Linked DNA regions of Homo sapiens. The protein of the gene in region 2 interacts with the protein of the main gene of each other region in a pairwise test. Each region holds a gene or a part of one and is shown on either strand. Other genes may lie near its edges.

Evidence for each region. The genes of interacting proteins can lie anywhere in the genome.
Region 1: the proteins of LZTS2 (region 2) and FGF12 interact in binary tests that used the Homo sapiens proteins (3 or more experiments, as listed by UniProt).

Annotation. Positions count from the first base shown.
Region 1 is NC_000003.12:192,167,104-192,172,051, forward strand, and holds part of FGF12 (fibroblast growth factor 12), read right to left. Parts: intron 3,554-4,948; coding exon 3,355-3,553; intron 1-3,354. UniProt on the Homo sapiens protein: Involved in nervous system development and function. Involved in the positive regulation of voltage-gated sodium channel activity. Promotes neuronal excitability by elevating the voltage dependence of neuronal sodium channel SCN8A fast inactivation.
Region 2 is NC_000010.11:101,002,795-101,007,409, reverse strand, and holds part of LZTS2 (leucine zipper putative tumor suppressor 2), read right to left. Parts: coding exon 4,464-4,615; intron 3,904-4,463; coding exon 3,244-3,903; coding exon of another isoform or gene 3,142-3,243; exon of another isoform or gene 2,934-3,141; intron 1,953-2,933; coding exon 1,695-1,952; intron 926-1,694; coding exon 242-925; 3' UTR 1-241. UniProt on the Homo sapiens protein: Negative regulator of katanin-mediated microtubule severing and release from the centrosome. Required for central spindle formation and the completion of cytokinesis.

The DNA of each region.
Region 1 (4,948 bases), on a different chromosome or scaffold from region 2:
CTCAATACCCATTGTGCCATAACCCCTAGTCACAGAACATTTATTTGGTATATGGCTATCAAAAAAAAAAAAAAAAAAAAGACTACATTCTTAGCTTCTTTACACCTAAGTGTGACTACCTGACTAGGTTGTGGCCAGTGCGATAAGTAGCATATGGCAGTTACCATGGACAACTTGGAAAGAAAACTGGCCCTGGCTTTTCCTTCTGTCTTCTTCACCTCTCCTCTGCCCTCTGGCTGGAATAAGATGCTGGTTGGATCATGGGCAGAAGGGCAGATCCAGGGCCAGCATGTGTGGTTGTGTTCCGGGTGCAGTGCACAGTTGTAAATAAGCCGTAGCAAAACACTGGGAGAGAGGTAGTAAAAGCTGGATGCAGCCAAGGCCCTACCAATTGGAAAAGCACAGTACCAGCTAGGATAGCTGGTCTCTAGATTTGTTTTGTGAGAGAATAAAAAACTTTATATGATTAAGCTGCTGTTAATATGAGTTTGTGTTGTGTGAAGACAACCTTAATTCTAATCCATATAGGAATGTCCAGTTGTACACGTACATGCTCATCCAGACCCAAGAGGAAACTTGATTAACCAAAGTACAGATAGCAGCTAAAATTAGGAGGGTAGGTTATAGGTATATATATATATATATATATATATATATATATATATAAAATTTTTTTTTTTTTTTTTTTTTGAGAAAGAATCTTGCTTTATCACCCAGGCTGGAGTGCAGTGGCGTGATCTCAGCTCACTGCAATCTCCACCTCCTTGATTCTCCTGCCTCAGTCTCCTGAGTAGCTGGGATTACCGGCACGTGCCACCACGCCCGGTTAATTTTTGTATTTTTAGTAGAGACGGGGTTTCACCATGTTGGTCAGGCTGATCTCAAACTCCTGACCTCGTGATCCGCCCACCTCGGTCTCCCAAAGTCCTGGGATTACAGGCGTGAGCCACCAAGCCTGGCCTAGGTGTATTTTTAAGTGGGGTCATGAGGGTGAAGTTGAATATAAAGGGCATTATCCGTAAAGGGAATAAACACAACACGTGGATTTCTTTTCTTCATACTTTCCTAAATTTTCCAAAATTGTTAATGACCTTGTACTACTTTTATAACAAGAAGAAAATCAATGTAAATGAACAAATAAAAATGATGCAATAATTAAGAGCATAATTCATCAAACATTTCATTTTTGAGAATCCATATATTTCCCTGTGAAAATATTACTTACTTCTCAGGTACCCTTTGCTTAACCCTAAGAAGCAGGCACTTTCCTGCCTTTATTCACACTGCACCTGGAATGTTTTTGTCTGCCTAATCCCTACCTCTCATCTCAAATTGCAGGAACCTGGCCTAGCCCTGAAGGTAAGTTTAAATATTAGCTTCTCAATGATATCTTACTTTTTGGGAAAATAATAGCCTTTTTCTCTGAGTCCCAATATAAATCCTATATATTGCATCACTTAACATTTTACTTTTGCTCTGAGTAAACATATGTCACACCTCTAAGAATATCATAAAGTTCTCTGGCGCATATATTCTTCTTTGTCTTTATAGTTTTCTATTCATTAATTCATTCACATGTTCACTTTTCAGACAACTGATTATCAAATATCTCTCTATGATATGCCAACTATTATAGAAGACAAAGGGAGATATGAAGAAAAATAAAACATGTTCTGTTCATTCAAAGAGTGAGCTAACCATGAATAAGAGGAGACAGAGTGGCATTGGGCAAATTTAATGTCATAATTTCTATGGGAGAGAAATGTATGCAATGACAAGCTGACCGAATGTTTAGTTCTACTTGAAGAAAGTCAAGAAGGCCATCATGGAAGTATTGACTCTTGAATTATTTTTTTCCAAAGACTAATAGACATTTTCCAGGCAGATGAGATAAATGGATAAAAACTAAAGGAGCAGGGGTGATGAACAAAATGAGCCCAATAAGAATGAAAATAGGCCAGGCATGGTGGCTCACGCTTGTAATCCCAGCACTTTGGGAGGCCGAGGTGGGCAGATAACCTGAGGTCAGGAGTTTGAGACCAGCCTGGCCAACATGGCGAAATCCTGTCTCTACTAAAAATACAAAAATTAGCCGGGTGTGGTGGTGTGTGCCTGTAATCCCAGCTACCCAGGAGGCTGAAGAAGGAGAATCGCTGGAACCCAGGGGGCAGAGGCTGCAGTGAGCCGAGATTGCACCACCGCACTCCAGCCTGGGTGACAGAGCAAGACTCCATCTCAAATAAATAAATAAATAAAGTGAAAATATACTGCAGGAAAGAAAAGTTCATTTCATGTGCTGAATACACAGCATGTGAAGAGGGTCCTGAGAGGGGCTAGGGGCTTTGAATATCACATTTCATCCAGTGCTTGGAACATTGGAAGATAGTATTGACTTAAATGTTTGCAGTCACCGTGCTATGTACTATGCACCAGGCATTGTGTACACTGATTGACTGACCATGCCATATGAGATATTCAGGGGACAGCAAGCTTGACTAAGCCACAGAGTTGCAATGCACTGCCTCAATTTTCTCATTTCCTCAGACGAGGATGCTGAGCCAATGTTTAAAGTGATTATAATGTGACTTTCAGAGGAGAAACAAGCTTACTCAGCCTGTAGTAGAAAGCTTGGCTGAATTCAGGAAATGTGGTTACCCAAATGATATGCTCTCATCCTAGCTAAGGAATTTCTGAGGGAACATAGCCTAGCTGCCAAAAATCGGTTTCCTCAGAAAAAAAAAAACAAAAAAGTTTATTCTAATGGTCAGTTTGAAATAAATGAACAGAGAATTAAATGATTACGAGAGAAAAGGTTATAGGCTCACCTGAGAAGGATACAGTGCAATACGGTAAATATAAAAGTATCATTTGTTTTTCAAGGGTGTATCTTGAGAAAGGAAATTATTAGGTTTAGAAAAGGAGGAAACTGCATACTAGATAGTAACTACCACTTCTTTTCTACTTTCAAAATTTTTCCGGCTTCTATATTCAGGCATTTTTTTTAAGTGCCAAGTATTTGTAATAGAATTTTCCTTTTTTTTTTTTTTAATAGGAAAAGATTCCCAGCTACTACGGAGGCTGAGGCAGGAGAATTGCTCGAATCCGGGAGGAGGTTGCAGTGAGCCGAGACTGAGCCATTGCATTCTAGTGTGGGCGACAGAGCAAGACTCTGCCTCAAAAGAAAAAAAAAAAAAAAAAGGAAGAGATACTATTGTGTTCTCTGAATATTTCTTTTGAATCTTTCTTCTGATCTGTTGCATTCCAGGCAAACTCTCTGGACCAAAAGGGCAAGAAGCAGAATTGATGTCAACACACAGATAAGGGTCCAACAAAGACAGTCAGTTGGTTTCATACCTTCAATAGGTTTCGGTACAAAATGTGATGAGGGCTTGGTTTTCTTCACTCTGTTCCCCTTCATAATTTGACCTTCTTTATTGAGTCCCAGAAACCAAGCTCGGCCTGATTCTTGCTGGCGGTACAGTGTGGAAGAATAGATCACATAGTAGTTTTCAAACACAGATTCCTTGAATTTGCATTCTGGAGTGAAAACATCCTGTAGGAAAAAAAAAAAAAGACACAAAAAAGAGAAATGATTTAAAGGTGAATCAGCAAATGCTTAAATCCAATAAGCTTGAAATCCATGTCCTCTGTTAAGAACAAATGAAAGGCAATGACACATAGTTTCTATTAGCCTTTGGTTACAAAGATTCATCATACAAAATCAAAAAACATGATTGCCTTTCTAGCCAACCTTCAGCCCAGAGATAATAACTTGCTCAGGCTTGAAGCTACGTTAAAATCATTCAGGACTGTGGCCAAGTCTGCGCTCCGATCCTAGCAATATGTTTTGTAAACTAAAGTGATTGGCCATTCCTCATTTACTCACCCTTAACATGTAAATAAGGAACTAAAATTTATCCTGGAAATCAAAATCAAATATAACCACAGCAAACACAGGCACACAAGGTGCTTTTGAAGAGACTATTCTGTATATACAAATGTATTACACAGCCACAGCTTGGTCAGGAAAATCACCACTTTTCCTAAAGTCAGTAACTTCCTCTCTAATTTCCTTAAAACATTTTTTTCCTTAGTAATCAAAATCTCAGGTAAAAAGCCCAGGAATAATAGAAAAAAATTACTATTATATTGAAGAAAATTACTAATAGTATTAATTCCTATTACTATTGACCTCAGTGAAACACAGAATGAGAGTTCTAGTCTCAGAAGAAACTGTAAGATCCTGTACTTCAACTCCAGCATTTGGTAAGTGAGAAAACCAAAAGGTCACGTGATTAATTCAAATACACATTTAAGAAACTACTGAGTCAATGCCAGAGCTCACATTCATTGCTTCACAATCACAGTCTCTCAGGCTCACCTTTTCTGCCTGAGTCTTGTTTAGTGACTTATAATGAGATTTAAAAATCAATACAATAAAATCATATCCTAACATGTCACATGAACAAAATGTATTGTGTGGAAGGAAGAAATTTCTCCCCTTCTGAGATCAGCAGAAGAAAAACAAATGCTATTGCATCTTCTTCAGCTGCAATTAAACAGGAGTCCTACATGTCAGACATATTCACCACAGTCACCATCTTCCTCTCCATGAACTGGAAGAATTTCAGTGTGAGACTCCCATGATTTAATGCAAGCAAACCTGGAATTAAGTTATTAATGAATATAGGAATATTAATGAATATAGGTTGGTTGAAGCCATGTCCTTGTAGGTGATACTCCCATGCCAATCTCCTTATTTGTAGAGAGTGCTCTCTCTCTCTCTTTCTCTCCCTCTCTCCTTTTTTTTCTTTTTCTTTTTGTAAGAGGTGGGGTCTTGCTATGTTGCATAGGCTGGCCTCAAACTCCCGGGCCCAGAAGATCCTCCCACATCAGCCTCCCAAGTAGCTGGAACTACAGGTGTGTACCACTGCACCCAGCTTGTTTT
Region 2 (4,615 bases):
GGTAGTAACAAGAGCCTCTGGGTAACAGTGAACACGGGGACCTTTGAGCGGTCTGATCTTGCTCCTCCAAGTCATAGGGCCACCCTGAGTTCTTGGCAGAAGCCCAGAGGCCTGGATCCTAGGAGACAAGTGGCTTTGGGGCCCTCAGCCTTTGGGGCCATCCGTGGACCCTGGGGCCTAAGTGGATCTGCAGCTGCTGCCCCTCTGGCAGAGCTCCCTACAGAGCTGGTTGCTGAGGGCCCTAGATCTCAGTAGCAGTGATCTCCTCCAGGCAGATGCAGGGGGCCTGCTCGGCCAGGCCCAGGTCAGCGAGCTCCCGGGCCTCCAGCTCCAGGCTGAGCTGCTGCAGCTCCTGCTCTAGCTGCCGGTTGCGCCGGTACATCTGGATGTAGTTGTGCTGCAGCTGCTTCTGGTAGCGGATCACCTGCTCCTTCTCTGCCTGCCAGGCCAGCCGCTCCCCCTCAAAGCTGTCCCGCTGCTCCTCACCCCGCCGCCGCTCCCGCTGCAGCTCCACCCGCAATCGCTCCACCTGGGCCCGCAAGCTGCCCCCAACCCCGGCTGCTGCCCGCTGCACTTTGGCCTCATCACTCTCTGCCAGGAGGAATGGGTCAGCGGTGGCAGGTGGCACAGGGGGCTCCCGGAGTCCGGCCGCCTCAGCATCCAACTGCCCAGCTTTCTCCCGCAGCTGCTCAGCTTCCTGGCGGTGTCGCTGCAGCTCCTGGGAACAGGCTTCCAGCTCCAGCTCCCGAGCTCGGGCGGCCTCCTGTAGACCCCGCGCACGGCCCTCACTGACCCGCAGCGTAGCACGGGCCTCCCGCAGCGCCACCCGCAGAGCCACCAGCTCGCTGCCCTTCTGCACCAGCTCTGCCTGAGACTCTTTCAGCTGCTGCTTCAGCAGGGAGATCTCGCCTGATTTCTGGCACACCTGGGGGTGGGAGGAAGTGGGGAAGGATGGTGAGACAGGTTCTCCTGGGGGGACAGGCCCTGCACATCATGCTGGGCATTTGGGAGAGAAGAGTCCATCTTTATCCCCATTTTACAGATGGAGACACTAAAGCAAGTCTAGTGACATGTCCAAGGTCATACAGTTAAGATGGGGCTTAAGTGGAAAGCAGACCTAGAACTTTTTGCTTCAAAGCTGGTGTCTTCAAAGCATCACAAGACACTGCAAGTACCACCAAGCCCTGGGGACTGGGGACTGGGGACTGGGTCCTGGCAAGTGCTGCAGGAGTGGGGACAATGGAGGGCAGTGCCCAGGTGCCTGCTGGAGAGGTACTACAGTGACCTAGTTAAGAGCTCAGATATTGGAGCCAGACTGCCTGGGTTCAGATTTGGGGCTTCAGCCTTTATGGGCCTCAGTTTACTCATCTCTAAAATGGGGAGACTAATGGTAGCCCCCTCAGTGTTGTTATAAGGATGAAATGATCTGTTCCATGTAACATGCTTAGAATAGTGCCTCCACACCACAAGCACCACATTCTTACTACTGGCTGGAAGCGTGGCTACGTGCCACTAGACAAGGCCAACAAGGAGACCCCCCTCCCAGAAAGGGACAGAGGGGAACCTCATCTCACGGAGGTGAGAAAGGGGAGGACCTCTGGGGGTGGCAGGCTGAGGGAGGGTGGGGCTGGGCCCCTTTTTCCAGGGTTTCTCCCTGTGTGACCCTGCTCCCTGCCCCTCCTGGTCTGGCCCACCTCCCACTTGGTCTCCTCAAGCCTCGGCCCGAGCTCCCGCTGCTCCCGCTCCAAGGTGGCGCAGCGCCGCTCCAGCTGTTCGCGCTCCTGCAGCAGCTGTGCGAAGTCGTCCTGCAATTGCCGCTTCTCCTGCTGCAGCTGGAACACCTGCAGCTGCAGCAGCTGTTGGGCCCGCTGTGCCCGCTGTGCCTGGGCCGCACAGTCCTCTCGCAGGGCCTCACGCTCTCGCTGCCAGTGCCGCTGCCGCTCCTCGTATGCCTGCAGGCGAGAAGAGAGACCTGGCTCCTGGGCAGTTTTCCCAACTCCCCACTCAGTGTCTGCTCTGGCAGCCCACTTCCGAGGGCTCAGGAAGGGTGGATTCCATTAAACAACAATAGTAATTGCAACAACAATACTAACTGCTTTTATGATGATCATAGAAACAAACACAAGAGCAAGCAGACCGGGCTCGGTGGCTCACGCGAGGTGGGTGGATCACTTAAGCTCCGGAGTTCGAGACCAGCCTAGGCAACACAGCAAAACCCTGCCTCTCCAAAGACCAAAAATTAGCTTGGTGTGGTGGCATGCGCCTGTAGTCTCAGCTACTTGGGAGGCTGGGGTGAGAGGACTGCTTGAGCCCAGGGGGTTGAGGCTACAGGGAGCTGAAATCACGCCACTGCTCTCTAGCCTGGGTGACAGAATGAGACCTTGTCTCAAAAAATAAAAAAAGCAAGCACTTGGCCGGGTGCAGTGGCTCACGCCTGTAATCCCAGCACTTTGGGAGGCCGAGGCAGGTGAATCACTTGAGGCCAGGGGTTCGCGACCAGCTTGGCCAACATGGTGGAAACCCTGTCTCTACTAAAAATAAAAAATAATAAAAAATTTTAAAAAAGGCAAGCATTTATATAGCACTTCCTAGGTACCAGGCATTAGTCTAATCACTTTACACCTTTTGCCTTATTTAATCCTCATAATAATCCTACGAAGCTAGAAATATCCCTATATAGATGAAGAAATAAAGGCTGAGTAAAGTTAAGCAACTTGCTCAAGCCCAAAAACTAGTATTTGGCAGTGGGAGGTTTGAATCCATGCACTCTGACTCCTTTCCACCCCACAAGTTTTGTTTTTTGTTTTGAGATAGAGTCTTGCTCTGTCGCCCAGGCTGGAGTGCAATGGTGGAATGTCAGTCCATTGTAACCTCCTCCTCCTGGGCTCCAGTGATCCGCCCACCTCAGCCTCCCAAGTAGCTGGGACTACAGGTACATGCCACCACACTTAGCTAATTTATTTTTAGTAGAAATGGGGTTTCCCCATGTTACCCAGGTTGGTCTCAAACTCCCGAGCTCAAGCAATCCGCCCACCTCGGCCTCCCAAAGTGCTGGGATTACAGATGTGAGCCACCACACCTGGCTACTCCACACATTAAACCAGACAACTGGTGGGGAGGGCAGGGGGGTCACAACTACAACTACCCAACCCCCGTTCCCTGCCAAAATGGAAATGCCGCTTGCATCCCAGGGCCTTGGGATGTCCTGCCATGCCCCTTCCCCATCATTGCCTCTGACCACACCTGGCACATGGTAGCCTCATTCTCGTCCAGACTGTCCCGCAGCTGCTGAAGCTCTGCCTCCCGGTCTCGGAGCTTTCCTTCCAGGACACAGTGCAGCAGGGCCTCATCCGAAGGAGGTGGAGGCGGGGGTGGTGGTGAGCGCTCCCCACAGGAGCTGCTGTCAGGGGAGGCCCGAGTACCACTGCCCAAAAGCCCCCCAGCCACACGGCCCCCTAGGGAGCCTGTGCTCTTGCTGGAGGAGGACCGGCCACTGTCTGAGTGGGAGGGCCCAGTAGGGACCCCTCGGGCTGGCCCAGGCAGTGCCCCTCGCCCAGAGCCATGGGAAGGCAGGTGCCCGCCTGGGGAGCTGGTGGTTGGCTCGGCACCTCCGGTGCTGTAGGTGGGCAGGCTGGACAGTGAGTTTCGGCCAGAGTCGGATAGCGTCCCTGATGGGCAGCCACTGGCCCAGCCACTAAATGCCAGGGGTTTGTCAGCAGCTGAAGAGGAGGAGGAAGAGGAGGAGGAGGAGGCAGGGCCCCCAAACAGCTGCGTCAGGCTGCCCTGGCTCCCAGACAGCCCGGTGGCCCGAGGACCCATGAAGCTAGGCAGGGACGGAGCCCCTCGAGGTTTGGGCAGCACTGGCTTGAAGGCTGTTGGGCGGATCAGGATCTTCTCCATGTTCTGAAATGAGGTGCCATGTGACACTGGAGATGAGCTGCCCAATCTTGCAGAGCCCTTATGACACTCCCTGCCCTCCCGTCTTGGGTCCCCAGTGCCCATATATTCATAACAATTGCGGCCACTGGTGGAGGTGGCCACCAGTGTCAGCTTTGTGTCAAGCAATTTGAAAAGTTTATCTCCATTATCTAAATATGATCACTATCCCCATATTACAGATGAGGAAATGGAGGCTCAGCAAGGTTAAAGGCCTTGCCCAAAGTCAAACGTATAACTGGTGCAGAATAACCAGAACGTAAGCAACTAGCACTTACTGCGTACATGCTACGTGCTAGGCACTATGCTATACATTATTTGACCTTCATGTCAGTTCTAGAAACTGAGGCTCAGGTTAAGTGACTTCCCTGAGGTCACACATCCAGAATGAGAGAGAGCTGGGATTAGGACCCAGGTCTGGTGAATCTGGAGCCCACACTCTTTCCTCTATATAAGCTTCTAAATTCCAGTTTCCCAAGCGAGGACTCCCGTTCTACCCAGGCCCACAAGGAAGAGCCGGTCCTCACCTTCTCCAGCTTTCCAGAGACAGGGATGAGCTTTGGTGGTGGGCCGCGGAGGTGGGCATTGTGTGCCCGCTGCTCTCGGGCATCCTCAACATCACTGCTTGGGCTGGGGGGTGACTCTGTCCGGAAGTCCTCATTGATGTAGGTGAAGCTGG